Linked DNA regions of Homo sapiens: all the other regions are linked to region 2. The links come from fine-mapping of genetic effects on gene expression. A gene starts in region 2. Each other region holds a variant in brackets. All regions are shown on one strand. Distances are from middle to middle. Region 1 overlaps CNTN6 (contactin 6). Region 2 holds the start of CNTN6 (contactin 6). Region 3 overlaps LOC107986058 (a long non-coding RNA gene). Region 4 overlaps LINC01266 (long intergenic non-protein coding RNA 1266).

Evidence for each region. PIP is the estimated chance that this variant, and not a neighbour inherited with it, causes the effect.
Region 1: its variant is fine-mapped to the expression of CNTN6 in lung (TOPMed, PIP above 0.99).
Region 3: its variant is fine-mapped to the expression of CNTN6 in gastroesophageal junction (GTEx, PIP above 0.99).
Region 4: its variant is fine-mapped to the expression of CNTN6 in pituitary (GTEx, PIP 0.91).

What each region holds. Positions count from the first base shown.
Region 1 is chr3:1,234,799-1,242,909 of GRCh38, reverse strand. All of the region lies in intron 4 of CNTN6 (contactin 6), which reads right to left. Among named protein-coding and RNA genes, the nearest start is that of CNTN6, 150 kb to the right of the region's middle. RefSeq lists an enhancer at 6,210-7,409. The variant A/G (reference allele first, on the strand shown) is at 3,488.
Region 2 is chr3:1,089,535-1,097,645 of GRCh38, reverse strand. CNTN6 (contactin 6) reads right to left here and starts at 4,622. Exons shown (of 23, transcript NM_001289080.2): 1 at 4,526-4,622.
Region 3 is chr3:867,002-875,112 of GRCh38, reverse strand. It overlaps LOC107986058 (a long non-coding RNA gene), which reads right to left. Exons shown (of 3, transcript XR_001740584.1): 3 at 4,952-5,154. Among named protein-coding and RNA genes, the nearest start is that of CNTN6, 220 kb to the left of the region's middle. The variant C/T (reference allele first, on the strand shown) is at 5,018.
Region 4 is chr3:810,790-818,900 of GRCh38, reverse strand. All of the region lies in intron 2 of LINC01266 (long intergenic non-protein coding RNA 1266), which reads right to left. Among named protein-coding and RNA genes, the nearest start is that of LINC01266, 220 kb to the right of the region's middle. The variant C/T (reference allele first, on the strand shown) is at 3,623.

The sequences.
Region 1 (8,111 bases), 150 kb before region 2:
CCATAACTGTTGTGGGTATTGACGGCCAGGCTTCAAAACCCCTGAAAACTCCCCCACTCTGGTACCAACTTGGACAGCACTCTTTTATGGACTCTTTTTTAGTTATCCCCACCTGCCCAGTTCCCTTATTAGGCCGAGATATTTTAACCAAATTATCTGCTTCCCTGACTATTCCTGGATTACAGCTGTGTCTCATTGCCGCCCTTCTCCCCAACCCAAAGCCTCCTTCGCGTCTTCCTCTCATATCCCCCCACCTTAACCCACAAGTATGGGACATCTCTACTCCTTCCCTGGCAACTGATCACATGCCCATTACCATCCCGTTAAAATCTAATCACCCTTACCCCGCTCAACGCCCATATCCCATCCCACAGCACGCTTTCAAAGGATTAAAGCCTGTTATCACTTGCCTGCTACAGCATGGGCTTCTAAAACCTATAAACTCTCCTTACAATTCCCCCATTTTACCTGTCCAAAAACCGGACAAGTCTTACAGATTAGTTCAGGATCTGCGCCTTATCAACCAAATTGTTTTGCCATCCACCCTGTGGTGCCCAACCCCTACACTCTTTTGTCCTCAATCCATTCCTCCACAACTCACTATTCTGTTCTCCATCTTAAAGATGCTTTTTTCACTATTCCCCTGCACCCCTCGTCCCAGCCTCTCTTTGCTTTCACTTAGACTGACCCTGACACCCATTAGGCTCAGCAAATTACCAAGGCTGTACTGCTGCAAAGCTTCACAGACAGCCCCCATTACTTCAATCAAGCCCAAATTTCTTCCTCATCTGTTACCTATCTCAGCATAATTCTCATAAAAACACACGTGCTTTCCCTGCCAATCGTGTCCGACTGATCTCTCAAACCCCAGCACCTTCTACAAAACAACAACTCCTTTCCTTCCTAGGCATGGTTAGCATGGTCGGAATTCTTACACAAGAGCCAGGACCACACCCTGTAGCCTTTCTGTCCAAACAACTTGACCTTACTGTTTTAGCCTAGCCCTCATGTCTGCGTGCAGCGGCTGCTGCTGCTTTAATACTTTTAGAGGCCTTCAAAATCACAAACTTTATCAGTCCTCCAGGCCCAAGTTGACTCTTTAGCTGCAGTTGTCCTCCAAAACCGCCGAGGCCTTGACTGACTTACTGCTGAAAAAGGAGGACTCTGCATATTCTTAAATGAGGAGTGTTGTTTTTACCTAAATCAATCTGGCCTGGTGTATGACAACATAAAAAAACTCAAGGATAGAGCCCAAAAACTTGCCAACCAAGCAAGTAATTATGCTGAACCCCCTTGGGCACTCTCTAATTGGATGTCCTGGGTCCTCCCAATTCTTAGTCCTTTAATACCCATTTTTCTCCTCCTTTTAATTCGGACCTTGTATCTTCCGTTTAGCTTCTCAATTCATCCAAAACCATATCCAGGCCATCACCAATCATTCTATACGACAAATGTTTCTTCTAACATCCGCACAATATCACCCCTCACCACAAGACCTCCCTTCAGCTTAGTCTCTCCCACTCTAGGTTCCCACACTGCCCCTAATCCCGCTTGAAGCAGCCCTGAGAAACATCGCCCGTTCTCTCTCCATACCACCCCCAAAAATTTTCACCACCCCAACACTTCAACACTATTTTGTTTTATTTGTCTTATTAATATAAGAAGGCAGGAATGTCAGGCCTCTGAGCCCAGGCCAGGCCATCGCATCCCCTGTAACTTGCACGTATACATCCAGATGGCCTGAAGTAACTGAAGATCCACAAAAGAAGTAAAAACAGCCTTAACTGATGACATTCCACCATTGTGATTTGTTCCTGCCCCATCCTAACTGATCAATGTACTTTGTAATCTCCCCCACCCTTAAGAAGGTACTTTGTAGTCTCCCCCACCCTTAAGAAGGTTCTTTGTAATTCTCCCCACCCTTGAGAATGTACTTTGTGAGATCCACCCATGCCCACCAGAGAACAACCCCCTTTGACTGTAATTTTCCATCACCTTCCCAAATCCTATAAAACAGCCCCACCCCTATCTCCCTTCACTGACTCTCTTTTCAGACTCAGCCCGCCTGCACCCACGTGAAGGTGCATGGGTTTATTTCACCCATGTGAAATAAACAGCCATGTTGCTCACACAAAGTCTGTTTGGTGGTCTCTTCACACGGACACACATGAAATTTTTTTCTTTTTTTTCTTTTTTTTTTTTTAGTATAATAACTTCTTTTCCTCTGGGTAGACACCAAGTAGTGGGATTGCTGGATCAAACGGTAGATCTACTTTTAGTCCTTTAAGGAATCTCCAACACTGTTTTCCATAGTGATTGTACTAGTTTACATTCCCACCAACAGTGTAAAACTGTTCCCTTTTCACCACATCCATGCCAATGTCTATTATTTTTTGAGTTTTTGATTATGGCAATTCTTGCAGGAGGGAGGTCGTATTGCATTGTGGTTTTGATTTACATTTTTCTGATAATTGGCAATGTTAAGCATTTTCCCATTTGTGCTTGCTTGCCATTTGTATATCTTCTTTGAGAATTGTCTATTCATGTCCTTAGCCCACTTTTTAATGGGATTGTTTGTTTTTTTCTTGCTGATTTGTTTGAGTTCCTTGTAGATTCTCGATATCAGTCATTCGTTGGATAAATAGATTGTGAAGATCTTTTCCCACTCTGTGGGTTGTCTGTAAACTCTCATGATTATTTCTTTGGCTGTGCAGAAGCTTTTTAGTTTAATTAAGTCCCATGTATTTATCTTTGTTTTTGTTGTGTTTGCTTTGTGTTCTTGGTCATGAAATCTTTGCCTAAGCCAATGTCTGGAAGTGTTGTTCCAATGTTATTTTCCATTATCTTTATGGTTTCAGGTCTTATATTTAGTCTTTGATATATCTTGAGTTGATTTTTTTTAAGGTGAGAGATGAGGATCCAGTTTCATTCTTCTACACTGGGCTTTTCAATGATCCCAGCACCATTTGTTGAATAGGATGTCCTTTCCACACTGCATATTTTTGTTTGCTTTGTTGAGGATCAGTTGACTGCAAGTTTTTGGCTTTATTTCTGGGTTCTCTATTCTGTTCCATTGGTCTATGTGCCTATTTTTGTAACAGTACCATGTTGCTTTGGTGACTATGGCCTCAGAGAAAAAGGTGAAGTCAGGTAACGTGATGCCTCCCAGTGTGTTCTTTTTGCTTAGTCTTGCTTTGGCTGTGTGGGCTCTTTTTTGGTTCCATGTAAATTTTAGGATTGTTTTTGCTAGTTCTGAGAAGAATGATGGTGCTATCTTGATGGGAATTGCACTGACTTTGTAGATTGCTTTTGGCAGTGTGGTCATTTTCACAATATTGATTCTCCCCAACCATGAGCATGGGATGTGTTTCTATTTGTTTGTGTCATCTATGATTTCTTTCAGCAGTGTTTCATAGTTTTCCTTGTAGAGGTCTTTCACATCCTTGATTAGATATATTCCTAAGTGTTTGTTTGTTTGTTTTTGCAG[A/G]TATTGTGAAAGGGGTGGAGTTCTTGATTTGATTTTCAGCTTGGTCACTGTTGGTAGGCAGCAGAGCTACCGATTTGTGTACTTTAATTTTGTATCTGGAAACTTTGGTGAATTCATTTACCAGTTCCAGAAGATTTTTGGATGAATCTTTAGGGCTTTTTAGGTATACAATCGTAACGTCAGCAAACAGAGACAGTTTGACTTCTTTTTTATCAATTTGGACACGCTTTATTTCTTTCTCTTTTCTGAATGCTCTGGCTAGGACTTCCAGTACTATGTTGAATAGAAGGAGTGAAAGTGGGCATCCCTATCTTGTTCCAGTTCTATATCTTACTGGTTTAATCTAGGAGAGTTGTATATTTCCAGGAATTTATCCATCTCCTCTAGGTTTTCTAGTTTATGCATGTGAAGGTGTTCATAGTAGCCTTCAATAATCTTTTGTATTTCTGTGATATCAGTTGTAATATCTCCCGCTTCATTTCTAATAGAGTTTATTTGGATCTTCTCTCTTCTTTTCTTGGTTAATCTCACTAACAGTCTATCAATTTTATTTATCTTTTCAAAGAGGCAGCTTTTTGTTTGATCATTCAGGAGCAGATTATTTAATTTCCATGTATTTGCCTGGTTTTGAAGGATCCTTTTGGAGTTGATTTCCAATTTTATTTCACTGTGGTCTGAGAGAGTACTTGATATAATTTCGATTTTCTTAAATTTCCTGAGACTTATTTTGTGGCCTATCGTATGGTCTATGTTGGAGAATGTTCCATGTGCTGATGAATAGAATGTGTATTCTGCAGTTGTTGGATAGAATTTTCTGTAAATATCTGTTAAGTTCATTTGTTCTAGAATATAGTTTAAGTCCATTGTTTCTTTGTTGACTTTCTGTCTTGATGACTTGTCTAGTGCTGTCAGTGGAGTGTTAAAGTCCTCCACTATTATTGTGTTGCCATCTATCTCATTTCTTAGGTATAGTAGTAATTGTTTTATAAATTTGGGAGCACCAGTGTTAGGTGCATATATATTTAGAACTGTGATATTTTCCTGTTGGACTAATCCTTTTATCATTATATAATGTCCCTCTTTGTTTGTTTAAACTGCTGTTGCTTTGAAGTATGTTTTGTCTGATAGAAGAATAGCTACTCCTGCTTGCTTTTGGTGTCCATTTGCACGGAATATCTTTTTCCACCCCTTTACTATAAGTAAATTTGAGTTCTTCTGTGTTAGTTGAGTCTCGTGAAGACAGCAGAGACTTTATTGGAGAATTCTCGTTTATTCTGCCATTCCGTATTTTTTAAGTGAAGCATTTAGGCCATTCACTTTCTATGTTAGTATTGAGATGTGAGGTACTATTCTATTCACCGTGCTATTTTGTTGCCTGAATACCTTGTGGTTTTTTTTTGTTTTGTTTTCTGTTTTCTTTTCTTTTTTTTTAAACATTGTGTTATTGTTATATAGGTTCTGTGAGATGTGTGCTTCAAGGAGGTTCTATTTTTGTGTATTTTGAAGATTTGTTTCAGATTTAGAGCTCTTTTTAGCTGTTCTTGTGTTGGCTTGGTAGTGGCAAATTCTCCCAGCATTTATTTGTCTGGAAAAGACTGTGTCTTTCCTTCATTTATGAAGCTTACTTTAACTGGATACAAAATTCTTGACTAATAGTTGTTTTGTTTAAGGAGGCTAAAAATAGAATCCCAATCCCTTTTAGCTTGTAGGGTTCCTGCTAAGAAATCTTCTGTTAATCTGATAGGTTTTCCTTTATAGGTTACCTGATGCTTTTGTCTCATAGCTATTAAGAGTCTTTCCTTTGTCTCAACTTTAGATAACCTAATGACTATATGCCTAGGTGATTATCTTTTTGTGATGAATTTCCCATATGTTCTTTGAGCTTCTTGTATTTGGATGTCTAGATCTCTAGCAAAGCTGAGGAAGTTTTCCTGGATTATTCTCTCAGACATATTTTCCAAATTGTTAGATTTCTCTTCTTCCTCGGGAACACCAATTATTCTTAGGTTTGGGTATTTAATGTAGTCTCAAACTTCTTGGAAGCTTTGCTCATTTTTTAAGAATTATTATTATTATTATTGTTTGTCTTTGATGGACTGGGTTAATTTGAAAGCCTTGTCTTAGAGCTCTGAAGTTCTTTCTTCTGCTTGTTTGATTCTATTGCTTAGACTTTCCAATGCATTTTACATTACTCTGTGTCCTAGATTTCCAGAACTTGTGATTGTTTTTTATTTATACTATCTATTTCACTGAAGAATTTTCCTTTAATTTTCTGTATAATGTTTTTAATTTCTTTAAGCTGGACTTCACCTTTTTTTGGTGGCTTCTTTTTTTTTCTTTTTGAAACAGAGTCTCGCACTGTTGCCCAGGCTGGAGTGCAGTGGCGTGATCACAGCTCACTGCAAGCTCTGCCTCCCAGGTTCACGCCATTCTCCTACCTCAGCCTTCCAAGTAGCTGGCACTACAGGCGCCCACCACCACGCTTGGCTAATTTTATGTATTTTTTAGTAGAGACAGGGTTTCACCATGTTAGCCAGGATGGTCTTGATCTCCTGACCTTGTGATCCACCCGCCTCAGCCTCCCAAAGTGCTGGGATTACAGGCGTGAGCCACCGCGCCTGGTCTCTGGTGCCTTCTTGATTAGCTTAATAATTAACCTTCTGAATTATTTTCCTGGCAATTCAGAAGTTTCATCTTGGCTTGGATCCATTGCAGGTGAGCTGGCATAATCTTTTGGGGGAGTTGAAGAACCTTATTTTGTCATATTATCATTATTGTCTCTCTGGTTTCTTCTCATTCGGGTACATTATGTCAGAGGGAATATCTGGGATTCAAGGGCTGCTCTTCAGAGTCTTTTGTCCCATGGGGTGCTCCCTTGTTTCGGTGTTCTCCCGCTTCCCCTAGGAATGGGGCTTCCTGAGAACTGAACTGTAGTGATTGCTTTGCTTTTCTGGATCTGGCACCCAGTGGAGCTACCAGGCTCTGATTGATACTGAGGAGTGTCTGCAGAGTCCTGTAATGTGATCCATCTTTAGGTCTTGCAGCTGTGGATACCACCACCTGCTCTGGTGGAGGTAGTAGGGGAGTGAAGTGAACTCTGTGAGGGTCCTTGGTTGCGTTTTTGTTTAGCGCTGGTTTTGTGTTGGTTGGCCTCCAGTCAGGAGATGGCGCTTCGGGAGTGCATCAGCTGTGGTCCTATACGGAGGATGCAAAAGTATTCAGGTTTCTCAGGTGGTGGGCAGGGCGATAGAGCTTTCAAGACATTATGACTTTTGTCTTTGGCTACCAGGACACATAGAGAAAGACCACCAGACTGGGATAGGGATAAGGTGTGTCTGAGCTCAGCCTCTCCTTGGGTGGGGCTTGCTGCAGCTGCTGTGAGGGATGGGGGTACAGTTCCCAGTCCGATGGAGTTATATTCCCAGGGGGATTATGGCTGCCTCTGCTGAGTCATACAGTTCACCAGGGAAGTGAGGGAAAACGCAGTCACAGGCCTCACCCCACCCCCACACAGCGTGAGTCCTAAAGGCCAGTCTCACTCCCACCATGCCCCACCCGCCCCCAGCAGCACTGAGTCTATTTCCAGACAGCTAGTGACCAGGGCTGAGAACCTGCCCCAGACCACCAGCCTCCCTATTGAGAAAGCAAGCCGACTCACAGTTTTTCTGCATCTCAGGGAGCCTGCAGCGGTGATCCAGTTCTTTCAAAGGGTTTGTGGATTCTCTCGGCTTTCCTGGTATGTTCCTGGGGTAGTTTCTGGGGCAAAGTATGATGTGAGTCTCCACATGCTGCTCTATCCCTCCCAGCAGGAGCTGCAAGCTAGTCTTGCTGCTTATCCGCCATCTTCTCTCCTGTATTTGCTATTTAAACACCTGAATCTGATTTACTTTTTAGACAATATTGGATATAAATTCAGATAATTATATACACATTATTACTTATAAATGCTCTTTATATGTATTATATATTTATTTATATATAAATAAACAATAGAAATATTTGATCCTTTAATGCAAAAAATGTCACTGTAATTTGAACCAATTTTATAAATCTTAGAAGCAAAATCTCTATGTGCTATGTTCATAAATTCCTTGAAACAGTTTGTCAAATAACATGAGTAATAAACAAGCATTTCAGCTTGTGCATCTGTCTCAGTTTTGTAAATCAGAAACTCCCAGTTTTGATAGAATGGATCCCCTACTTTCTTATATTTTCCTCTCCCATCCCAACTCTTAGCCTGCACAATTTTATTCAAATGAACTAAAAAGACTAGCTCCTGCTGAATATAAGTAGAAGTAGGCAGTGGGAGAAGGCCTGAATTTTGAAAAAGTACCATTTCTGATAAGACACATAAATAGATTTCCAGCAGCGATAGTGTGGGAAAAAATGAGGCTAAAGCATTGAATAATCTACTTCCCTGTTGATTTTAAATATAAATATAACAGTGGCTTGCTATAATTTAACCACGCAACTGCTTACAGTCTATTTGTTTAAGATCTGAATTATTTTTAAAAGCAAAGACAAAGTTTTCTCCTTGATATGATAACAATTGGTGGTTATGCTGTTATTTCATTAAGACAAATTGAGAATATTAAATCCATTGTAACATTGCTTATGCTATTTG
Region 2 (8,111 bases):
AGAGGCTAAGAAACTTGCCTAAGACCACAGAGCTATTCTGTGCTAGATATAGGGAAGGAAATCTACAATGGGCGGCACTTCAGCTCAAGAGCTTGCCTCCTGAATCTTGCTCTCACTATCATTTTATTGACACTGAGAAATTGCTATTTGCTTTTTAGTAAGATCATTCGTTTTTTATAATACTTCATACGACACATCATGTTCTTTTATTGCCTCTTTTAAGGATTTGAAATATAGGGAAATTCAGTTATTTATTCATTCATTTATTCATTTAATTGTAAACCTAATACATATAAGTTTTCTACTCAGTATACTTTCAAAAAGGATTTGAGTCTACAGATTTTGATTCATGTTACTATGATGTAACGTTTCTGTAAATTACCTTAGGACTCATTGCAAAATAGTTAAGTAGGCCACAGACTTCATCAATATAAACTAATAGGGGACATTATCAGAAGGCATGCCCAATGGCTCTGTTTTTCCTCTACTATGTCCTGTGTTACGCCTTTACCGTAATAAATGTTTAATACTACAACACATCATGCAGATGAACTCAGTCTTAACTAGAACAGCTCTTTTCAATATGAATACTGAGAATAACAACATTCTAATAAAATTTTCATTCAAAGAATTCCTCCAAACTGAAAGATTGCTATTTAAAACTCCTTAAATAAAGAGATTTTTAAATGTCCTCTATTGTCCCACAGAAACAATAAAGAGAAATATAAAAGGTGGCAGTGGTCGTGGTGCAGATAAAAAACGAAGCAAAAACCCTCCGTCTTCAGTGAAAATGTTAGTGGACAAAACCCCAAAACACGACTTGAAGCCCATTTCCACTGTAGCCAAATACTAAAAATCATGGACCTTTGGGGGACATCAGAGAAAACCGATCAGTACTTTCTTTTTCTCTTACTTTCAGGAGGATACAGATTGCCCAAAAACCTGCCAGCTGAGGAAATTGCTAGAGTGTTAAGAGAAGGAAACATGTATTTACAAGATCACAATACAGAAGGTTGTGCCTTAATAGGTTTATTGCAAGCTATACTATTCATTCAAGTGGCAAACAAGAGAACAAGTGGTTCTCAAATAAAGAAGATAACCAATTTGTCAATTAAAATTGAAAAGAAATTTGGATATGAAAGATGTGGAAAGTAGACAAATGAGATACAACATGTACAAAATTGGTGATCCTGAAGAAAAGAAAGAAGCAAGATAACCACAATTTGGCCACGCCCAGTTAAGGGACAAAAAAGAAATAGTACAACAAATCCTAAAATAAAAGAATCTTAAATTAATGGGGCAAACCTCAAAAAAAGTTAATGAAAATGGAACAAATCCAGGAATATTCTGTAAAAGCAAACACCCATACACACACTCACACACACACACACAACAAAAGAATCATGTAGGCATTTATCAGAAAAAAAGCAAGTCACATTCAATGACGGAAATTGCAGACAGACCTAAAAATGTTGCAAAACAACTTTCAGTACAGGAAGGGTCTCCAAAAATGTTTAAACATTTACACATTTCCAAAAGAAAAAATTAAGCTTGATCCAAGAAAGATAACGTATCTTGCATGTCTAAGGCAAAAGAAATACATGTTCAAGATGCAAACTCATAGAAAATATAGCACCTATGACTATTTCTTTGGTGGAGAGGTACTACTTACTGAAATCTAACAACCCAAAAAATAATTGAAAATAAAGAACACAGAAATGGTGAATTGGGTAGTAAAAGCCTGTTGATAAAGGATAATTCCTTACAAATTTGAAATAAGTTTAAACTGAGACCATGGGAATTCAGCCAGAATGTATGTACTCAGTAATGTAAAACTGATGTAGTTTAAATTGAGGTGGTATGGGTGGAGTTGATGACAAGTCACATTGCAAATGCATTTAACTATCATAACAAGGGTTATAAAAGTTTGTTTACTATTTAAACGTGCATCCAAAAAAATCTTCAAACTATTTCTATTTTCAAAATTTTTGGTCTTAACTGTAAGGGTATTATTCTGGACATAATATCTCCATTGGAGAGAAATCTATACATGAAATTTAACAATTTCTTCAATGTTGTTTCAACTTCTCTTTTTTCAGTTTAATTAAAATCTAAAATCAAAAATTAAACTCAATGTTTCTGTTTTCTGTTTTCTGTTTGTTTGTTTGTTTGTTTGAGATGGAGTTTCACTCTGTCACCCAGGCTGGAGGGCAATGGCGCGATCTCTGCTCACTGCAAGCTCCGCCTCCCGGGGTCAAGTGATTCTCCTGCCTCAGCTTCCTGAGTAGCTGTGACTACAGGCACACGCCAAAACGCCCAGCTAATTTTTGTATTTTTAGTAGAAATGGGGTTTCACCATGTTGGCCAGGATGGTCTCAATCTCTTGACCTCGTGATCCGCCCGCCTCGGCCTCCCAAAGTGCTGGGATTATAGGTGTGAACCACCGCGCGCGGCCAATATTTCTGTTTTTTTTTAAGTGTAGGATAAGATCTCATTCTTACAGAAGAGTATCTATTATTGACTATATTATCTAAATATTTATTATTTATTTTTTAAAAGGTGTATAGTAAGAAACCATTCTTACAAAAGTATTTATCTCTCATCTTATCTGAATTTAGGCACCAGTATGTCTCCAATGATAGTCGCCAAATTTCATGATTGTTATTTACAGGTGATGGGTTTTCCCTTTTGAACTTTTATGTATAGTTTGAGTCATTTTTAATAGGTAGAACTTATACTTCTGCATTCCAATTAATATGTTATTAAAATAAACAGTGAATAAATAAGCAAATATTTTGTATTCCTTCTCCTCACATAAAAGAATTTAAAAGGTACAAATTTACTATTATACTACTGAGCATTTTTACTTACTAAAAAAAAAACCCAGAAGTATGCAATCAATTTAATATACCACACATCCTTTTCACAACATAATTGATTTTTTTTAGAGGGGGTTCTAAACTCAGAGAAAATATGTGATCCTTTTCTAAGTAAACAAGTGAATTTGTTTTCATTAAGGAAAGCTACATAAAAATTCTAAAAAAAAATTCTGGTCCTTCACTACAAATATTCAAAGGAAGTAATGCAATGAAGTCATTTATAAATGATTGACTTTTTTGCTAAGATGTGATAAGTTATGCATTTATATAACCTCACATAAAGCTTTATATAAAAGTTTCCACATTTATATATTTGAAATCTTTGGACTGCACAGCCATGATTATTGCTTAAAAAAAGAAAAAGAAACCCCACTGAAACATCAAAGATGAAATGCTTCTGTATTTCTTTTTTTTTACACAAATTGTGTAAGTATTTTTGTATGTTTATGTTTGTTTTGTGAACATGCGTATGTTTACACATGTGTGTGAAGGAGGAGGGAAAAAGAGTCTGCTTAAACATTTCTTTCCTTATAAAATACAATGCACATAAATTGGTGAAACCTTCAACAACAAAAATAAAAAGATGATAAACCCATCAGATAAATGAAAATTGCTCAAAACAAGCAATTCAATATTCAGCATATGCTTCTTCTTTTACAGACATCTTCAGAAAACATTGCCACTGTAGATAAAATTATGAATACCTCATTTTCCAAATTGATTCTGTGTGATTCTACTGTTCACTCTATTTTTTCTCAGTATAACTTCTATTTAGTCATTCTGTGAATGTTTCTCAGAGGACATAGTCAGGATGCTGATTATTTAAACATAAGTAGTTTTCATTTGGAGAAGCAAAAACTATGAATTCCAATTTTCCCCCCAAACCCCAATGTTACAGTATCCCATTAACATAATGGGTTATACGTGGCTAATCTCAGAGCTCTTAAAAGTTTTGTTCCCAAGTCATCAACTTCTGAAAGTTTTCATAAAGTATTATAAGAACCTTAATACTGACAACTTAACTGGTGTAAATGGTAAAGGAAACTCCAGAGGCTGTTATCTAGAAGCTGGGTATAAAGCAAAATGCCAGACAAAATTTGGTGAGCCCATATGACCTCCAGTCTTGCTTTGCTCCCCTTACCAAATTCTCCCCTAGGAAACTTTATAACCATTCTTTTAAATCATCCGGTGAGAACTGCAAACCCCACCCCTCATCCCTTTGATTAAAAAAAAAAAAAAGACAAAAAACATTTAGCGATCACATTTTCCCATCTGCCGTTACAGAAAGGGCGTGTAGCCATCTGAAAGTCCCAGAATTAGCACTGTCATCCCGTCTTGCCCATTAGTTTTACTGCAGCAAAGACTAGTGAAACACTGAGAAATATACCTGTAGTCTTTCTTTCCCTGGTTTGATCCTAACCTCCCGGAATACAGATTCAATACATTTCTCCCACACAAGGAATAAATGCATTTTAAACATCAGCATCATAGAAACACAGCATCAATAAAGCAGTGACTTCTCCCCCAACCCCAGCTTTTACCTGTTATGCTAATACAAAGACATTGAAAGGAAGAAAAGCTGCAGCTTGCCCAGCAATATTCTCATTGCAGCAGACACAGCACAATTTTGTACTTACAGATCTTACCAGGGAAATGTCTCGGGATCTTTACAGTTTTTCTGCAGAACTCTGTTTCAAGCTCTCAGCCAGGCATGCTGTGCGTCCAGGCAGAACCAAGCCGTATGGAATGTCTATGCAGCTGGGAGATAATGGGACTCTTTTTCCCAGCTGGGACTGCAAGCCTTTTATCCACTGAGTATTGCGTGGCTCTTCTCTGGTCTTAAGCATGAAATACGCTCCTCTCCTGCTGCATTCCTGTCGGAGCCAGACAATCAGTTCTTGAGGCACATGTGCAAAGCTCTCGTTTGGAATATTCAAAAGGAAAATTCTTTCTACATTGAAAGCCAGCTCTATCTTCATCAACCTTCACAGAATCAGAGAGAGCTGAGAGCAGCTGCCATTCCAGGGCCATGAAAGATTAAATTCACCCTCCTCTTTCTTTGACTGGAGATAGTCACTCCTGTCGGGTCATCAGAAAATCTCTCTTATTGAAAACTGGGTCAGACTAACTACTTATTAGGTTTCCAACAGGAAAGGAAGTAATTTTTTTCTTCCTCTGGTTTCACTGCATTGTCATTTGCAAGCAAAGATTAAGCTGGTCAAGGGTCTGCACTGATTTAGACAGTATTCAAATGTAAGCTTTTTGAAGCATGCCAGTAACTCCTATTAGTGAAGGTGAAGAGAAAAGGGAAATAAAATCAAATGATTGTATGCACTATCACTAAAACCTTTATAAGTTGTATTTTTTAAATGTGTGTATGAGGCTTCTTAAAGACAGGTAAAGAAAGTGAAGTCAAACAAGTCCAAAAGAGTATTGCTGCTTTCCGAGTAACATATTTGTAATTCCAGAGGCAGAGAACAAGTGTCTATGTGTTTGCCTAAGAGCTCTGTAAGAAGAAGAATTGTTTTTGTGTTTCACCCTGGGCCCTCCAACTAAACTTTTTAATATGTTTGGGTCTTGTCATCGGGTTTTGAAGGGACTAACTGCTTGAAGGATGAAAACTAAGGAATAGGAATTACACATACATGCACACTGAGACTCTAGTGCATACAAACATAACTATAACATGAGAAAAGAATGATAGTTTGGACTTATTTTCATGTTGGCATACAAAGAAATTATACTCTTAGCATCTTAAAGTAAGTGGATACTGAGAAAATGAAATCCCCAAATCAAATGGAAATAAGTCAAAAGATATTTCTTGGCCTCAGTTTACTTTCATCTGATGAGCAAGAAGGTTTCTATGACTACATTTTATGACTATGTCCTATGGATTTCTTCACAGGGTCTAACCAACATTATAAGAGGCTTTAGAAAGGAGATGATGCTTCCTAACACAAGGTAAACTCAAAATGGGCTACCCTATTGTTTCTCCCAATTCATAAGAAGGCAAACTAGACTAATAATTTTATAGAAAGAATATCTGTTTTTATTGCCTCTTTTTTTTTTTTTTAAAAAAAATAGAAGTATTTCTTGCTCTGTAGGAATAAAAATATATTTTATTTGTAAAAATGCCAAGATGACTTTTTCTGCAGAGTTTTAAGAAAAATAATCATTATGTAGTAGGCTTTATTTTTTTTTTGTGGAAAGAAATTCATTCAAGCTTAAAGAATATCCCTTTACTCAAATCTCCAACAGTCTGACTCATATTCAAGGACAGCTGATTGCTTTGCTTTCTATTTTACCCAAAAAGGAATAAGAACCAGAAGAAAACTTCAATAAGCTCCTGTCACTACATCTAGTCACATACTTGGCCCCTGTGACCACAGACTCTCCCTTCATCTTGTTACTTGAGGTGAACCGTGCTCCCTCCTTAGACCAAGCCATCCACCTGTGCTTTAGATAGTCTTCTACTCAAGGGACCATTCTACCCACTTGTCTCTCTCTGTGGAATCATCAACTCTCCCTACCTTCTGTAGCATCACAACAAAGAGATTTGCTGCTAGTTGGCCCATTTTAAAAATCAGCACCCCTTTAACATACCGTCTTCCTCTGTCTACTACTGCATTTCCTTGCTTCTGTTTATAGTAAAACACCTTGAAGGAATTCTCTGTACTTACTGTCTCCATTCATCTTTTCTCATTTTATCTTGAATCTGCTTTGATTAGTCTTTTGTCCCCACTGTTCCACATAAGTGTTTCTGGTCATAGTCAATATTAAATTACGCATAGAATAATGCAATGGTCAACTTAGTCCTAATTTTACTTGATGTATCACTCACAAGTAATACAGTTTACCAAGTACTCCTCCTTTAAGCATTGCTTTTGCTTAATTTCTTAAATTTTCTTCTCGTTTACTACCTGCTCCTTCTCAGATCCCTTTGCTGATATCTTCTCATTTTATTAATTTTTAAACACTGGGGGAGGAGGTGTGGGTATCAAGGATCTAAAACAAGGTCTGTACACTACAGGCTACACAGAATTACTAAGGAAAATTAATTAAGACCTAAATAAGTAAAGAAATATGCCACATTCATGGGTCAAAAACACTCAATATTTTTAAGAAGTCAATTATCTCCCAATAGGTTTTTAGCTTTAAAATAATCTCAGTGAAAATATCAGGAGATTTTCTTGTAGCAATCATCAAATGAGGCTAAAATTTATGTAGCAATAAAATTAACCAAGAAAGTAAAATCGAATGATAAACAAAGTTGGCAGACATATCCTGTGATTTTTACAATTTACTACTAGTAATAGAGCGATAAAGACGGTGTGATGTTGGCAGGATAGGTCAACAAAACATAATTAAGTGTTCAAAAACAGATCAGCACATATACAGTGGATTTTAGACAAAGGTATCAGGTAATTCAATGGATATTGTGCTAATGGATATGTGCCGATTTTAGGTGAATGGATTTTAGACAGAGTTATCAGGTAATTCAATGATAAAGGCATCATAATTCAAGAAATGGTGCTTGAACAAATGAATATTCATTTGTAAAAAAGTTAACCTTAATCCTTACCTCGTACCACACACAAAAAGCTAACGTGAAATAGGTCACACACTTAAAGGTACAGCATTAAATTTTCTGGAAGAAAACCAAACACCACATATTCTCACTTATAAGTGGGAGCTGCATGATGAGAACACATGGACACATGGAGGGGGAACAACACACATCTTGGTACCCATCGTGGCGGGTGGGAGGAGGGAGAGTATCAGGAAGAATAGCTAATGAATGTTGGGCTTAATACCCAGGTGATGTGATGATCTGTGCAGTAAACCACCATGGCACTCGTTTACCTACGTAAAACCTGCGTATCCTGCACATGTACCCCGAACTTAAAATAAAAGTTGAAAAAAAAAAAAACTTCTGAAAGAAAATGTATGAGTCCTAGGATTAAGCAAAGATTTCTTAAAACTCATGTGCATACACACACATAAAAACACAGAACATAAAGAATAAATAGAAATATTGGACTTCATTAAATTTAAAAAGACTGATTTTTGAAATATATCATTAAGAAATTTTTACACCTCAATAACAAAAAAATAAGCAACCCATTAGAAAATGAAAAAAAAATGAACATTTTTAGCAAAGATATCCAAATGACATTTAAGCCCATTAAAATGATGCTCAACATCATTATTTTAAAAATGCCAATCAAAACC
Region 3 (8,111 bases), 220 kb after region 2:
ACATGGTGAAACCCCATCTCTACTAAAAATACAAAACATTAGCTGGGCGTGGTGGTGGGCACCTGTAGTGTCAGCTACTCGGGAGGCTGAGGCAGGAGAATGGTGTAAACCCGGGAGGCGGAGCTTGCAGTGAGCCGAGATCCTGCCACTGCACTCCAGCCTGTGTGACAGAGTGAGACTCCATCTCAAAAAAAAAAAAAAAATTTCCTCTGCATGCATTTAGAACCACATCAAAGTTATAATTTTTTCTTCTACCATCAAACATATTTTAGAAAACTCAACAAATCCTACTGTATTTACAAAAGTTTTGCTTACTGTATTGTTTCTTTCTTTCAGATGTTCCAAGATTTTTGGAACGTCATTTCCTTTGTTTAGAGAACAAATTTCTTTAGCCATTATTTATGGTAGGTTTGATAATAACAAATTAATGTTTTCTCATCTGAGAATGGCTTGATTTCCCCTTCAATCTGGGAGGACATTTTCACTGGGTCTAGGATGCTCAATTAAAAGGCCTTTTCTTTCAGCATTGCATTGTGCCACTTGTTTCAGGACTCCATGGTTTCTGATAAGAAATCTACTGCCATTTGTATTATTTATCTCTAAAGGTACGGTGTGGGTTTTCTCTGGCTCTTCAAGATTTGTAAATGTCTCTTGGCATGGAATTCTTTGGTTTATCTTACCTGGAGTTCACTCAACTTATAAGTGAGTGCTGTATGTGTGTGTGTGTGTGTGTGTGTGTGTGTGTGTAACATTGGAAATAGTGCTATTAGAAAAGCTAGGGATAAACTCATGTATCTAACCAACTGAAAATTGCTACATAAGATATATTTAAAGAGCTCATGCAAACTAATAATAGAAGAAATGCCTGCTCATTTGAAAAATGGGTTATTTATGGCATAGGCTATTCACAGTAGAAGAAACATAACTGGCAAAATAGTCACATATTACATTATTTATCCTAGCCATAACTAAGTTTCTTTTTTATTCAATGAAAAAAGTGGAAAAAAGCTTTTGTAAATGAAGGAAGAAAAAGAACAACACTGCCTCATTTAATGCAGGTACACATTTTATGATTATTTGAATGCAATGAATTTGAAAATAAAATAATTTTGAATAAAATCACAGTTCATGAATAAATTGAGCAAAATATGTGAAAGGAAAATAAATCTCAGGATTCCAAACTCCCTCAGTCAAAAGGAAAATTTAAACTGGGAACTGCGTCATGCAACCTGCCTCCCATTTTGTTTCTAAGATGGCTAAAAACATGAAAAAGCTACATAGCTCCCTCATAATTTTCCCAAGAGCAAATTCCTTGTGGGCCCCAAGATCTTTATCCTGAGACAGTTATGTTGAATTTTACCCTGACCATGTACATTGATAGCTTGTCTTCACAAATACAGGACAAAGGACAGAACTCAAAGTCTTCACTTCGCTCATCTGAGGTAAATGCTTATCTGATTGCTTCTTCAGCCTTAAGTTTATTTTATTTTATGTAAAAAATGTAGATTCACTGAGCTAGATGAATGCATAAGTGACGATTTTTCTACCCTACTGTCACATGTGAATGGCTGATCAAAGACTCAGAAGAATGCAACTGCTTGCCTCTTAACTACCCACAGCTTTTAAAAATGTCTTTCTCTCTCTCCAGCATTTGCCCTTTCCCCTTTAAATATTGAAGCCCTCAAAATCATCTTTGGAGAAAGACACAGTCTTGTCTCCCAAGCACTGTCCTTAACTTTGGCAAAATAAATGTCTAAATTAATTGAGACCAGTCTCAGATAGTTTTTGGTTTGCAGACAATATAAAACTTTCACATTAACATTGTATTAAGGGTCATAGAGCTTCCAAGCTTCGTGGTGGAATAAATTGTAACTGGATTTAGTGCAACTTCCACATAGGTCTGACTCTTTAAGTAGTGAAAAATAATAGTTATCATTCTTTATTAGAATCAGTCTTGAATGAGGCAAGTGTTGACTTATTGGAGTGTGATATTATGATATAATAAGAACTATCCATTTGCTCTCTGACCCTGGTTCCTGTCACACAGCTCTGAAAACCCTTGGAATTTCTAGAGTGATGTGTCTTTGCATATTAATGAGATGATTGGTGGTTTGGGACCCTTAGATAGCTTCAGGACTGGGCTGGTCACCAGAAGGACCAAGGCATAATTAGAGTTGGAGTTGTCAGCCCCACCCCAACCCTCCAGGGAAGAGAGAGGGAGTGATGTTTGAGTTGATCACCAAGGACAAATGATATAATCAATGGCGTCTATGTAATGTTGCCTCTATAAAAAATCCAAAAGTCGGGGTTCCCTGGAGGTGCCTGGGAGGGTGGGTAAATAGCTTTCATACGTTGCCCTGGCTCTTTTAAAAATGCACCTGTTCATCTGTCTTGTTCATCTATATTCTTTGTAATGTATTTTATAGTGAATGGGTAAACTAAGTAAAGTGTTTCCCTAAGTTCTTTGAGCTTCTCTAGCAAATTAGCTGAATCTGAGGAAGGGGTGATGGGAACTCAGATTTATAGCCAATCACTCAGAAGCACAGGTCAAAACCCCAGGCTTGCAATTGGCATTTTAAATTGAGGTTAGTCCTATGAGACTGAGTGCTTAACCTGTAGCATCTGATAATAATTCTAGGTAGATAGTGTCAAAATTGAGCTAAGTTATAGTATACCCAGTTGGTATCTGTTAGAGAATTAGCTGCTTGTTGTGTGTCACGGGGAACCAATACATCTGGTTCATAAATTTGAATTGAATATGAGAGCAAGGAAAACGCTTTTTATTTTTCTTATCTCACATAGGGAATCTTTCAGAAAGTATACACACATAAAGAATCAGCTCCGTTATATGATGTATTCCTAAAATTCACCTTGCGATGCAAATTTATGAAAAAAAAATTACATGGCTTATGGGGAGACTGGTGTTGGGAAACAATAGTCAAAAACTTTTTCAGTGACATACACAGAAGAAAATCATAGGAACCTAATAAAAATAGTAGCATACTTTTATCCATATTAAGTGGTAAAGAAATATATAGTTTCATAAAAGAAATATGACACTTCCTTTTTGAAGAAAAACTAAGGTTTGCTTGTGGAAGTGAGTATTGAAAGGGTTTCAGCTTGGGAGGAATTGCAAAGTGGTGAAATAAGAATTATCTGAAATCAGACAGAAAGCTGTAACACCAGATATAGATGGGTGGTCTCATCACACCTGTGCTGAGCTGAAGTAGCTGTTGGATGTTTGAGGTTTGTTTATGCTTACATTTTATGTATTGCTACATGGCTTTGTTCTGCCAGGTGCCATTTTGTGCATCCGCCTAGTGTTTCTCAAAGATGAGGTAACACATAGGCAAACAAGAAATTTGTGTCATGCTCAAATTGTTCCTTAATATATAAATAGTTTTGGAGCTAATTCATTTTTTAAAAAACAAGCCTTTTAAAAGAACTTACTGCACTGCCTTCTAATCAGATACATTTGTTTGCAGGTGCATAATTTGGCACAGACTTTGTGCAGTTTAATTTAATACAATTCCTTTTAAGTACTGAATAAATCCCATTAAATCTGTAGAACATTTGATCCAATATATCAGCCTTTGGGATTTTACTAAAGAAGTAGAAACATTTTTATTGCAAAAATATTTAATATGAGTATGATTCATATACAAAATTTAGATCCTTCTTCAATGTAAAAATATAGGTGTTTGTTTAAAAAAATTATGTATAGCCATATAATTAACTACCATGCAAATATAAAAACAGTTTTTCAGAAATTATCTTTTGAAATTGAAATATATTAAAGGTGTATTATGAGAGAAAAATATCGATATTAAAATAATATGTAAGATAAAATATAAATCACATAATATATTTGTTTTTATATAATAAATGTATCTACAAGAGTATCAATAACTTGTCGTCTCTGGCTGAGTGGGATTATATTTATTACTTAAATTCATTGTTTCTTTTGTTTCAAAATATTTAGTGATTATTTTCTCTAATGATATATACAATTAGCATAATCATAACAAACATTATAGCTTATGCAACTTAAAATGTAATCTCAAAACAATTCTATGATATATTTTTATTAAATGGTTTACTCATGGTCCAAAATTGGACCAGGTACAATTACTTTGTTAGGCGTATGGTCCATGACTCTCCATCTTTTTCCTCCACCAGGGTTGATTCATAACTGTCATGCATACCACATGTTTCTACTTGGGCCCCTGGTAGATGTTGCAAATTGATCCCTGATTTATAACTTTTATCAACATGATATTGATATAACTGTGACTGAGCAACCAGAATTGGCACGTGAGCTGTATCTATTTGCCTCCTCTATTTCATCATGCCGGCAGAGAGCCAGTAACATGTATTCCCACTTGAACACCCATTGTCTGTATCAATTGTATAAAATTTGGCTTGGTTACTTTTAGAGCTGACTAAAATGCACTATGTATTCACTGCATTGTAGCATGCATATATTTGAAATGGAGATGTGTCCTACCGAAATATCAAGAAATGATCCATTTTTCCAGCATCTAATACTTAGGTTGCTCTAACATATCCTCAGAGGACTCATTTTCAAATCCCACTCTTGGACAAAATATTGCCTTTCTCTCCTTCACTGGTGACATTGAAATAAAATTGCTATGATCCAAGGACTAGAGAAATAAATACTGTATGCTTTAAAGAAAGGCCAATTTGGCAGCAACTGGGGGATGGGGGAGAACGGAATACTGCTGTGCCAATGTCAGAAACATCCCTTCCTCAAATCCTATCCTTTTTGCAGTGCAGAGCAACCTTCATAAGTTGTACTTCTCTCACACCCTGAAGCCAAACTTAAAAGTTTAATCCTCATGAGCAAAAAATGAAATTCTTTATAAAAATAGCTCCTGGCTGAAAGACTCTACAAAAAAAAAAAAAAAAAAAAAAAAAAAGGAGGAAGAAACAAAGAAAGAGCAGACAGCAAATGGGATAGTAAGCCAACAGAATTTTCCCACAGTAACCTTACCAC[C/T]TTGCATGCAAGGATCCTGGGCAGCCAAGTGTCAAGCTATGTGAAAAGGAAGCATGAGTCTCTGGTGCTTACAAATTCAATTCCATTAAACGAGTATTTATTGAGTGTCTTCCATGTGCTCAGCAATGCTTTAGACACTGTGAAAGAAACAAAGGATGTATAAGACAGTTACTACCCTGAAGGACTTTGCAATCTTGTTGAAGAGCTTTCTCTGGAAAACAATTTGATGCTGAATGAGTAAGAAACACACATGATTCAAAACACCCTGTGGACAGAAAAACTATTCACATGTCATCCAGATGTCATTTTAATGGAAGCTCAACCACCTCGTTTTTAATTTACCAAAGGAATCAACCCAGGGCATACGTATGTATTTAGCCTTGTCCACATTTCAAGTGGATCATTCTAAGCAAACAAACTTTCTTCTATACCAAGAATGCTGCTGATGAAATGTGCTGGGGCTGCCTGAATTTGCTCCTTGACCTTGTCTGTCAAATATGACAGTCATCTTTTTCTGGGTAATGCATTATCACCATGTCCCATTGTGATGATGTATTATACTTACACATCATTGAAGAAGCAATTTGCTTTGATGATGTACAGACATGCAATAGATCATGGCTCAGAAAGAGTGAGAGCAGGAGCACCCTGGAGATCTATATTTCAAGCAGTGATGCCATCCATACAAGAACACAGACATCATTAATTTAAATTATCTGGACAGGAGCTGGGCTAATGAAAGGACTTTTGACCCTTCCCAAATGTAAAAATAGATATATTAAAAATGCTTTCTCATGGTTGTCAAACGGTAGCATAGGGAATTCCTGTGGTGATGGAACTTCTCAGTGTCTTGACTGTGATGGTAGATACATAAACCTACACATTAATAAAAATCTATAGAATTTATACATGTACATGTGCACATACACACACAAATGAGTCCAAGCCAAACTGGGGTAACCTGAGTAAGTTGGACGGACTGTAAAATGTCAATATTATTGTCATGATATTACACTATAGTTTAACAAAATATTGTCATTGGGGGAAGCTGGGCAAAGTGTATACAGAATCTCTTTGTATTATTCCTCACAAATGCATGTTGTTCTATAATTATTTTAATAATTATTCACATGTAACCCAGATGTCATTTTAATAACAATGAAACTATTTTTAAATGGTTTCCCAGATAATAAAACATTATCAGACTCAACTTTTATAGTATGACCAAAGTTTTCTTCTTTTTAAGACATTATAAAGAAAAAAAGACATCCACACACTTTAATAAAAAATCCTGTTGTAAAGGGAGATATTGGCAAATATTTAATATTAATCCATGACAATTATATTCACATTAACACTGAATTAATGTCCAACACAAAGAAAGGATTCTGTTTAATGAAAGAAACTAATTTGTAGGATTTAAAATATTTTAGAACGTTATTTCAGTTCACATATATAAATATAAAAAACCTTAGTGTTGGTCTTTGTCATAAAACAGAATAGCTTGAGAGGGTAAGATCTATGAAGACAAATTTAAATAAGTTTAAACTAAGGCCTAAAGGTGAAATCCATACACAGGTTTCTTTAGAATTAGAGTTCTTAAGACAGAAATTATATCCATGTTACACCAGAAAAATCTTTTGATAAGTGTATTCAATAAGTGGACATCTTTATCAATAGTCATATTTACATGAAGCTGAATTTATTTTGGGGATGCATAGAAACTAGGGGAGTGCTTATTTATGTTACAGTGATGTTAGGCTAAGGGGATGGTTTTGCTTGCTAGGAACACAATGAAGATGAACAAGTACCAAAGACACAATTATGAAATGCAAATTGAGCAATGTGATGGGATCCAACATATAACACATATTGAGAAATGTGTCAACTTCCATGAGATTCCCGTAACCACAAGACATTAAAATAGAGAATAATTCATAAATCTATTAAGAATAGGAGAAAAGGAAGATACCAGGAGACAAAGACATTCCTTGCAGTAGGAAGGCAAATGATATCACATTTAGGAATGAACTGAAATGCTCATAGACTTAGCAGAAAAAGGAGTCAGTGAAGGAGAAAGCTGCTCTTCACAAAAGAGTCCTTGGAAGTTGGTATTTACAGAGATCTCAGATTTGAGAAGATGGGTATATAAATTAGATAAACTATTCTGCCTTCCAAGCCATATTTGCAATGGGGTATTTTCTTTCATGCTGAGTCCAGATTAATATATTCTAAAGAAATTGATCGATCTGTCTGCCCAAAATTGGGGATCCAAGAGTGGGCATGGAGACATGGAACAGAATCCAAATCATTTTTAATTGAGGATACACGTAGGCTGGAGATAGGGCATGTCCATTCCTTGCTCACATCTCTGAAAACTAATACTTGCCAATAATTACTGACAGTTACTTCTCATGTTCTGGGGTAGAGGCAAGTATGTGAAGAGGACATCCACTCAAGCTGCCTAAATTAGTTTGTTCAATTATTCATTCCTAAATATAAACATAGAACTAAGGAACACAATATATTTTGGGAAAAAAAGCAGAAAAGAGATGAAAATTTAAACATGTAAATATTTAAATTAAAAATGTAAAAATTTGAGATTATCAATTCATACATACATATAAAATCGATCTAGTGTTTTAGTTCTAGTAACTGAAGAGATAAAGAATGTAATACATGCTATGCCATCAATGACCTCAAAAATTTGATTTTTTAATAACATCTCCAAAATTCTGAAAGGCAGTATATCATATAAAGAAGATGCAGACCACAGTGGGCTTGATCAGCTTTCATACTGTTGCTTTCTTAAAGCACTTTAACATTTGATTCAGTTTTTTGACATGATAAACATGAATATATTGCCTGTCTTATACAGTGAAAGACAAATTTAAAGAGGACTAAATAAAAACAAAATTATTTGTAATATTAAATATTTTCAACAAGGATATAAAGGCTAATTGGCCTGAATTCTATTGTTTTACTTTATTTGGATAAAAACCATTACACTGATAAATAAGCAGAATATTCAAGTCAAGAGAAGTGTAAGTGACTAGTAAAGGGTTCAGTGCAAAGTTGTTTGTGCCATTGTAAG
Region 4 (8,111 bases), 280 kb after region 2:
GCCCTTCTTTTTCTCTTTTGATCTTTGTTGGTTTAAAGTCTGTTTTACCAGAGACTAAGAATACAACCGTAGCTTTTTTTTTGCTTTCCATTCGTTTGGTAAATCTTTTTCTATCCCTGTATTTTGAGCCTATGTGTGTCTTTGCATATGAGCTGGATCTCCTTAATACAGCACACTGATGGGTCTTGACTCTTTATCCAGTTTGCCGGTCTATGTCTTTTAATTGGGACATTTAAGCCATTTACATTTAAGGTTAATATTGTTATTTGGGAATTTGAACCTGTCATTATGACACTAGCTGGTTATTTTACATGTTAATTGATGCAGTTTTTTCATAATGTCGACGGTCTTTATAATTTGGTATGTTTTCGCAGTGACTGGTACCAGTTGTTCCTTTGCATGTTTAGTGCTTCCTCCAGGAGCTCTGGTAAGGCAGGCCTGGTGGTGACAAAATCTTTCAGCATTTGCTTGTTTGTAAAGGATTTTATTTCTCCCTCACTTATGAAGCTTAGTTTGGCTGGATATGAAATTCTGGGTTGAAAATCTTTTCTTTAACAATGTTGAATATTGGCACCCACTCTCTTCTGGCTTGTAAGTTTTCTGCTGAGAGATCTCCTGTTAGTCTGAGGGGCTTTCCTTTGTGGGTAACCCGACCTTTCTCTCTGGCTGCCCTTAATAATTTTTCCTTCATTTCAATCTTGGTGAATCTGACAATTATGTGTCTTGGGGTTGCTCTTCTTGAGGAGTATCTTTGTGGTGTTCTCTGTATTTTCTGAATTTGAATGTTGGCCTGCCTTGCTAGGTTGGTGAAGTTCTCCTGGATAATATCCTTAAGAGTGTTTTCCAATTTGATTCCATTCTCCCCGTCACTTTCAGGTACAACAATTAAATGTGGATTTAGTTTTTTTCCACATAGTCCCATATTTCTTGGAGGCTTTGTTCATTCCTTTTTATTCTTTTTTCTTTAATATTGTCTTCTCACTTTATTTCATTAAGTTGATCTTCAATGTCTGAGATGCTTTCTTCTGCTTGATTGATTCAGCTATTGATACTTGTTTATGCATCAGGATGTTTTAATGCTGTGTTTCAGCTCGATCAGGTCATTTATGTTCTTCTCTAAACTGGTTATTCTAGTTAGCAATTTGTCTAACCTTTTTTCCAGGTTCTTAGCTTCCTTGCATTGGGTTAAACATGCTCCTTTAGCTCGGAGGAGTTTGTTATCACCCACCTTCTGAAACCTACTTCTGTCAATTTGTCAAACTCATTCTCCATCCAGTTTTGTTCCCTTGCTGGCCAGAAGTTGTGATCCTTTGGAGGAGATGAGGTGTTCTGGCTTTTGGAATTTTCAGCCTTTTTGCACTGGTTTCTCACTATCTTAGTGGATTTATCTACCTTTGGTCTTTGATGTTGGTGACTTTCAGATGGGGTCTCTGAGTGGACGTCCTTTTTGTTGATATTGATGCTATCCCTGTTTGTCAGTTTTCCTTCTAACAGGCCCCTCTGCTACAGATCTGCTGGAGTTTGCTGGAGGTCCACTCCAGACCCTGTTTCCTGAGAATCACCAGTGGAGGCTGCAGAACAGCAAAGATTGCTGCCTGTTCCTTCCTCTGGAAGCTTCGTCCCAGAGGGGCACCTGCCAGATGCTAGCCAGAGCTCTCCTGTATGAGGTGTATGTCAGCCCCTACTGCGAGGTGTCTCCCAGTCAGGATACATAGGGGTCAGGGACTCACTTGATGGGGAAGTCTTACCCTTAGCAGAGCTGAAACTCTGTGCTGGGAGATCTGCTGCTCTCTTCAGAGCTGTCAGGCAGGAATGTTTAAGTCTGCTGAAGCTGCGCCCACAGCTGCCCCTTCCCCTAGGTGCATTGTCCCTGGGATATGGAGGTTTTATCTATAAGCAGCTGGGGCTGCTGCCTTTATTTCAGACATGCCCTGCCCAGAGAGGAGGGATCTGGAGAGGCAGTCTGGCCACCATGGCCTTGCTGAGCTGCGGTGGGCTCTGCCCAGCTTGAACTTCCCTGCAGCTTTGTTCACTCTGTAAGGGTAAAACCACTTACTCAAGTCTCAGCATTGGCAGAGGCCCCTCCCCACACCAAGCTTGAGCATCCCAGGTCAACCTCAAACTGCTGTGCTGGCAGCGAGAACTTCCAGCCAGTGCATCCAAGCTTGCTGGCCTCCATGGGGGTGGGATCCCCCGAGCCAGACCACTTGGCTCCCTGGCTTCAGCCCCCTTTCCAGGGGAGTGAACGATTCTGTCTCACTGGTGTTCCAGGCGCCACTGGGGTATTGAAAAAAAACTCCTGAAGCTAGTTTGGTATCTGCCCAAACAACCACCCAGTTTTGTGCTTGAAATCCAGGGCTCTGGTGGCTTAGGCACCAGAAGGAATCTCCTGATCTGTGGGTTGTGTAGACCATGGGAAAAGTGCAGTACCTGGGCCAGAGCACACCATTCCTCATGGTGCAGTGCCTCACTGCTTTCCTTGGGTCGGGGAGATAATTCCCCCAACCCTTGTGCTTCCTGGGTGAGGTGATGCCCCATCCTGCTTTGGCTTGCCCTCCACGGGCTGTACCCACTCTCCAACCAGTCCCAATGAGATGAACTGCTTACCTCAGTTGGAAATGCAGGAATCACCCACCTTCTGCGTCGATCTCGCTGGGAGCTGCAGACTGGAACTTTTCCTATTTGGCCATCTTGTCAGCAAATCCCCACATAAATATCTCTCAATGGACAAATGGTTAAACAAACTTTGGCCTATCCATATAATGGAATGATAGCAATAAAAAGTGAAAGGCTCAACCTACTAAATAAGCAACAATATGGATAAATCTCAAATACATTAAGTTAGTGAAACAATACGTACTTAAAAGGCTATATCCTTTATGATTCCGTTTACATGAGTTTCTAGGAGTCAAGTTGAAGGACAAGAAATAAGTCAGTGGTTGCCACTGGCTAGGACTGAGGGAGATGAATGCCTACAAAGAGGCAGAAGGTTACATTTTCAGGTGATGAAAATGTTCTATATATTGATTTTATTTGTAGTCACATGACTATATACGTTAGTAAAACTCATAGAATTATACATCAAAAAGAGTAAATTTTATTTTATGTAAATTCTACCAAAACAACCTGTGTTTCAAAATGAAAGATGGCTGAGAGTTGAATTGTTGAGGAGTTTGGAAGACAGGCAAACCTGATTTGACTTGTATTTTGGAAGTATTGAGAGCCACTTGAGGATTCTGAGGAGTAATTAAATGAGCAGGGTTGTGCTGAGCAATGATCGCTCTGTTAGAAACATGCAGGATGAATCATTCTATAGACAGATATATGATTAGAGGTAACATGTGCTATAATTTTCCTGTGACTGCTGTAGCTAAGGAATATCTTGACTAGGAAACTTGTCTACTTTTTTGTTCTGAAAGATAAGAAAACATAACAAGGGGCCTATGTATCTATCTACACATCCATCTTAGTTTATGCTACTTGTAATTTATTTATTTATTTATTTTTATTATACTTTAAGTTTTAGGGTACATGTGCACATTGTGCAGGTTAGTTACATATGTATACATGTGCCATGCTGGTGCGCTGCACCCACTAACTCGTCATCTAGCATTAGGTATAT[C/T]TCCCGATGCTATCCCTCCCCACTCCCCCCACCCCACAACAGTCCCCAGAGTGTGATATTCCCCTTCCTGTGTCCATGTGTTGTCATTGTTCAATTCCCACCTATGAGTGAGAATATGCGGTGTTTGGTTTTTTGTTCTTAAGATAGTTTACTGAGAATGATGATTTCCAATTTCATCCATTTCCCTACAAAGGACATGAACTCATCATTTTTGATGACTGCATAGTATTCCATGGTGTATATGTGCCACATTTTCTTAATCCAGTCTATCATTGTTGGACATTTGGGTTGGTTCCAAGTCTTTGCTATTGTGAATAATGCCGCAATAAACATACGTGTGCATGTGTCTTTATAGCAGCATGATTTATAGTCCTTTGGGTATACACACAGTAATGGGATGGCTGGGTCAAATGGTATTTCCAGTTCTAGATCCCTGAGGAATCGCCACACTGACTTCCACAATGGTTGAACTAGTTTACAGTCCCACCAACAGTGTAAAAGTGTTCCTATTTCTCCACATCCTCTCCAGCACCTGTTGTTTCCTGACTTTTTAATGATTGCCATTCTAACTGGTGTGAGATGGTATCTCATTGTGGTTTTGATGTGCATTTCTCTGATGGCCAGTGATGATGAGCATTTTTTCATGTGTTTTTTGGCTGCATAAATGTCTTCTTTTGAGAAGTGTCTGTTCATGTCCTTCGCCCACTTTTTGATGGGGTTGTTTGTTTTTTTTCTTGTAAATTTGTTTGAGTTCATTGTAGATTCTGGATATTAGCCCTTTGTCAGATGAGTAGGTTGCGAAAATTTTCTCCCATTTTGTAGGTTGCCTGTTCACTCTGATGGTAGTTTCTTTTGCTGTGCAGAAGCTCTTCAGTTTAATTAGATCCCATTTGTCAATTTTGTCTTTTGTTGCCATTGCTTTTGGTGTTCTGGACATGAAGTCCTTGCCCATGCCTATGTCCTGAATGGTAATGCCTACGTTTTTTTCTAGGGTTTTTATGGTTTTAGGTCTAACATTTAAGTCTTTAATCCATGTTGAATTGATTTTTGTATAAGATGTAAGGAAGGGATCCAGTTTCAGCTTTCTACATATGGCTAGCCAGTTTTCCCAGCACCATTTATTAAATAGGGAGTTCTTTCCCCATTGCTTGTTTTTCTCAGGTTTGTCAAAGATCAGATAGTTGTAGATATGCGGCGTTATTTCTGAGGGCTCTGTTCTGTTCCATTGATCTATATCTCTGTTTTGGTACCAGTACCATGCTGTTTTGGTTACTGTAGCCTTGTAGTATAGTTTGAAGTCAGGTAGTGTGATGCCTCCAGCTTTGTTCTTTTGGCTTAGGATTGACTTGGCGATGCGGGCTCTTTTTTGGTTCCATATGAACTTTAAAGTAGTTTTTTCCAATTCTGTGAAGAAAGTCATCGGTAGCTTGATGGGGATGGCATTGAATCTGTAAATTACCTTGGGCAGTATGGCCATTTTCATGATATTGATTCTTCCTACCCATGAGCATGGAATGTTCTTCCATTTGTTTGTATCCTCTTTTATTTCCTCGAGAAGTGGTTTGTAGTTCTCCTTGAAGAGGTCCTTCACATCCCTTGTAAGTTGGATTCCTAGGTATTTTATTCTCTTTGAAGCAATTGTGAATGGGAGTTCACTCATGATTTGGCTCTCTGTTTGTCTGTTGTTGGTGTATAAGAATGCTTGTGATTTTTGTACATTGATTTTGTATCCTGAGACTTCGCTGAAGTTGCTTATCAGCTTAAGGAGATTTTGGGCTGAGACAATGGGGTTTTCTAGATATACAATCATGTCGTCTGCAAACAGGGACAATTTGACTTCCTCTTTTCCTAATTGAATACCCTTTATTTCCTTCTCCTGCCTAATTGCCCTGGCCAGAACTTCCAACACTATGTTGAATAGGAGTGGTGAGAGAGGGCATCCCTGTCTTGTGCCAGTTTTCAAAGGGAATGCTTCCAGTTTTTGCCCATTCAGTATGATATTGGCTGTGGGTTTGTCATAGATAGCTCTTATTATTTTGAAATACGTCCCATCAATACCTAATTTATTGAGAGTTTTTAGCATGAAGGGTTGTTGAATTTTGTCAAAGGCTTTTTCTGCATCTATTGAGATACTCACGTGGTTTTTGTCTTTGGCTCTGTTTATATGCTGCATTACATTTATTGATTTGCGTATATTGAACCAGCCTTGCATCCCAGGGATGAAGCCCACTTGTTCATGGTGGATAAGCTTTTTGATGTGCTGCTGGATTCGTTTTGCCAGTATTTTATTGAGGATTTTTGCATCAATGTTCATCAAGGATATTGGTCTAAAATTCTCTTTTTTGGTTGTGTCTCTGCCCGGCTTTGGTATCAGAATGATGCTGGCCTCATAAAATGAGTTAGGGAGGATTCCCTCTTTTTCTATTGATTGGAATAGTTTCAGAAGGAATGGTACCAGTTCCTCCTTGTACCTCTGGTAGAATTCGGCTGTGAATCCATCTGGTCCTGGAGTCTTTTTGGTTGGTAAGCTATTGATTATTGCCACAATTTCAGCTCCTGTTATTGGTCTATTCAGAGATTCAACTTCTTCCTGGTTTAGTCTTGGGAGAGTGTGTGTGTCCAGGAATTTATCCATTTCTTCTAGATTTTCTAGTTTATTTGCGTAGAGGTGTTTGTAGTATTCCCTGATGGTAGTTTGTATTTCTGTGGGATCCGTGGTGATATCCCCTTTATCATTTTTTATTGCATCTATTTGATTCTTCTCTCTTTTTTCTTTATTAGTCTTGCTAGTGGTCTATCAATTTTGTTGATCCTTTCAAAAAACCAGCTCCTGGATTCATTAATTTTTTGAAGGGTTTTTTGTGTCTCTATTTCCTTCAGTTCTGCTCTGATTTTAGTTATTTCTTGCCTTCTGCTAGCTTTTGAATGTGTTTGCTCTTGCTTTTCTAGTTCTTTTAATTGTGATGTTAGGGTGTCAATTTTGGATCTTTCCTGCTTTCTCTTGTGGGCATTTAGTGCTATAAATTTCCCTCTACACATTGCTTTGAATGCGTCCCAGAGATTCTGGTATGTTGTGTCTTTGTTCTCGTTGGTTTGAAAGAACATCTTTATTTCTGCCTTCATTTCGTTATGTACCCAGTAGTCATTCAGGAGCAGGTTGTTCAGTTTCCATGTAGTTGAGCAGTTTTGAGTGAGATTCTTAATCCTGAGTTCTAGTTTGATTGCACTGTGGTCTGAGAGATAGTTTGTTATAATTTCTGTTCTTTTACATTTGCTGAGGAGAGCTTTACTTCCCAGTATGTGGTCAATTTTGGAATAGGTGTGGTGTGGTGCTGAAAAAAATGTATATTCTGTTGATTTGGGGTGGAGAGTTCTGCAGATGTCTATTAGGTCCGCTTGGTGCAGAGCTGAGTTCAATTCCTGGGTATCCTTGTTGACTTTCTGTCTCGTTGATCTGTCTAATGTTGACAGTGGGGTGTTAAAGTCTCCCATTATTAATGTGTGGGAGTCTAAGTCTCTTTGTAGGTCACTCAGGACTTGCTTTATGAATCTTAGTGCTCCTGTATTGGGTGCATATATATTTAGGATAGTTAGCTCTTCTTGTTGAATTGATCCCTTTACCATTATGTAATGGCCTTGTCTCTTTTGATCTTTGTTGGTTTAAAGTCTGTTTTATCAGAGACGTGGATTGCAACCCCTGCCTTTTTTTGTTTTCCACTGGCTTGGTAGATCTTCCTCCATCCTTTTATTTTGAGCCTATATGTGTCTCTGCATGTGAGATGGGTTTCCTGAATACAGCACACTGATGCGTCTTGACTCTTTATCCAATTTGCCAGTCTGTGTCTTTTAATTGGAGCATTTAGTCCATTTACATTTAAAGTTAATATTGTTATGTGTGAATTTGATCCTGTCATTATGATGTTAGCTGGTGATTTTGCTCATTAGTTGATGCAGTTTCTTCCTAGTCTCGATGGTCTTTACATTTTGGCATGATTTTGCAGCGGCTGGTACTGATTATTCCTTTCCATGTTTAGTGCTTCCTTCAGGAGCTCTTGTAAGGCAGGCCTGGTGGTGACAAAATCTCTCAGCATTTGCTTGTCTGTAAAGTATTTTATTTCTCCTTCACTTATGAAGCTTAGTTTGGCTGGATATGAAATTCTGGGTTGAAAATTCTTTTCTTTAAGAATGTTGAATATTGGTCCCCACTCTCTTCTGGCTTGTAGGGTTTCTGCCAAGAGATCCGCTGTTAGTCTGATGGGCTTCCCTTTGAGGGTAACCCGACCTTTCTCTCTGGCTGCCCTTAACATTTTTTCCTTCATTTCAACTTTGGTGAATCTGACAATTATGTGTCTTGGAGTTGCTCTTCTCGAGGAGTATCTTTGTGGTGTTGTCTGTATTTCCTGAATCTGAACATTGGGCTGCCTTGCTAGACTGGGGAAGTTCTCCTGGATAATATCCTGCAGAGTGTTTTCCAACTTGGTTCCTTTCT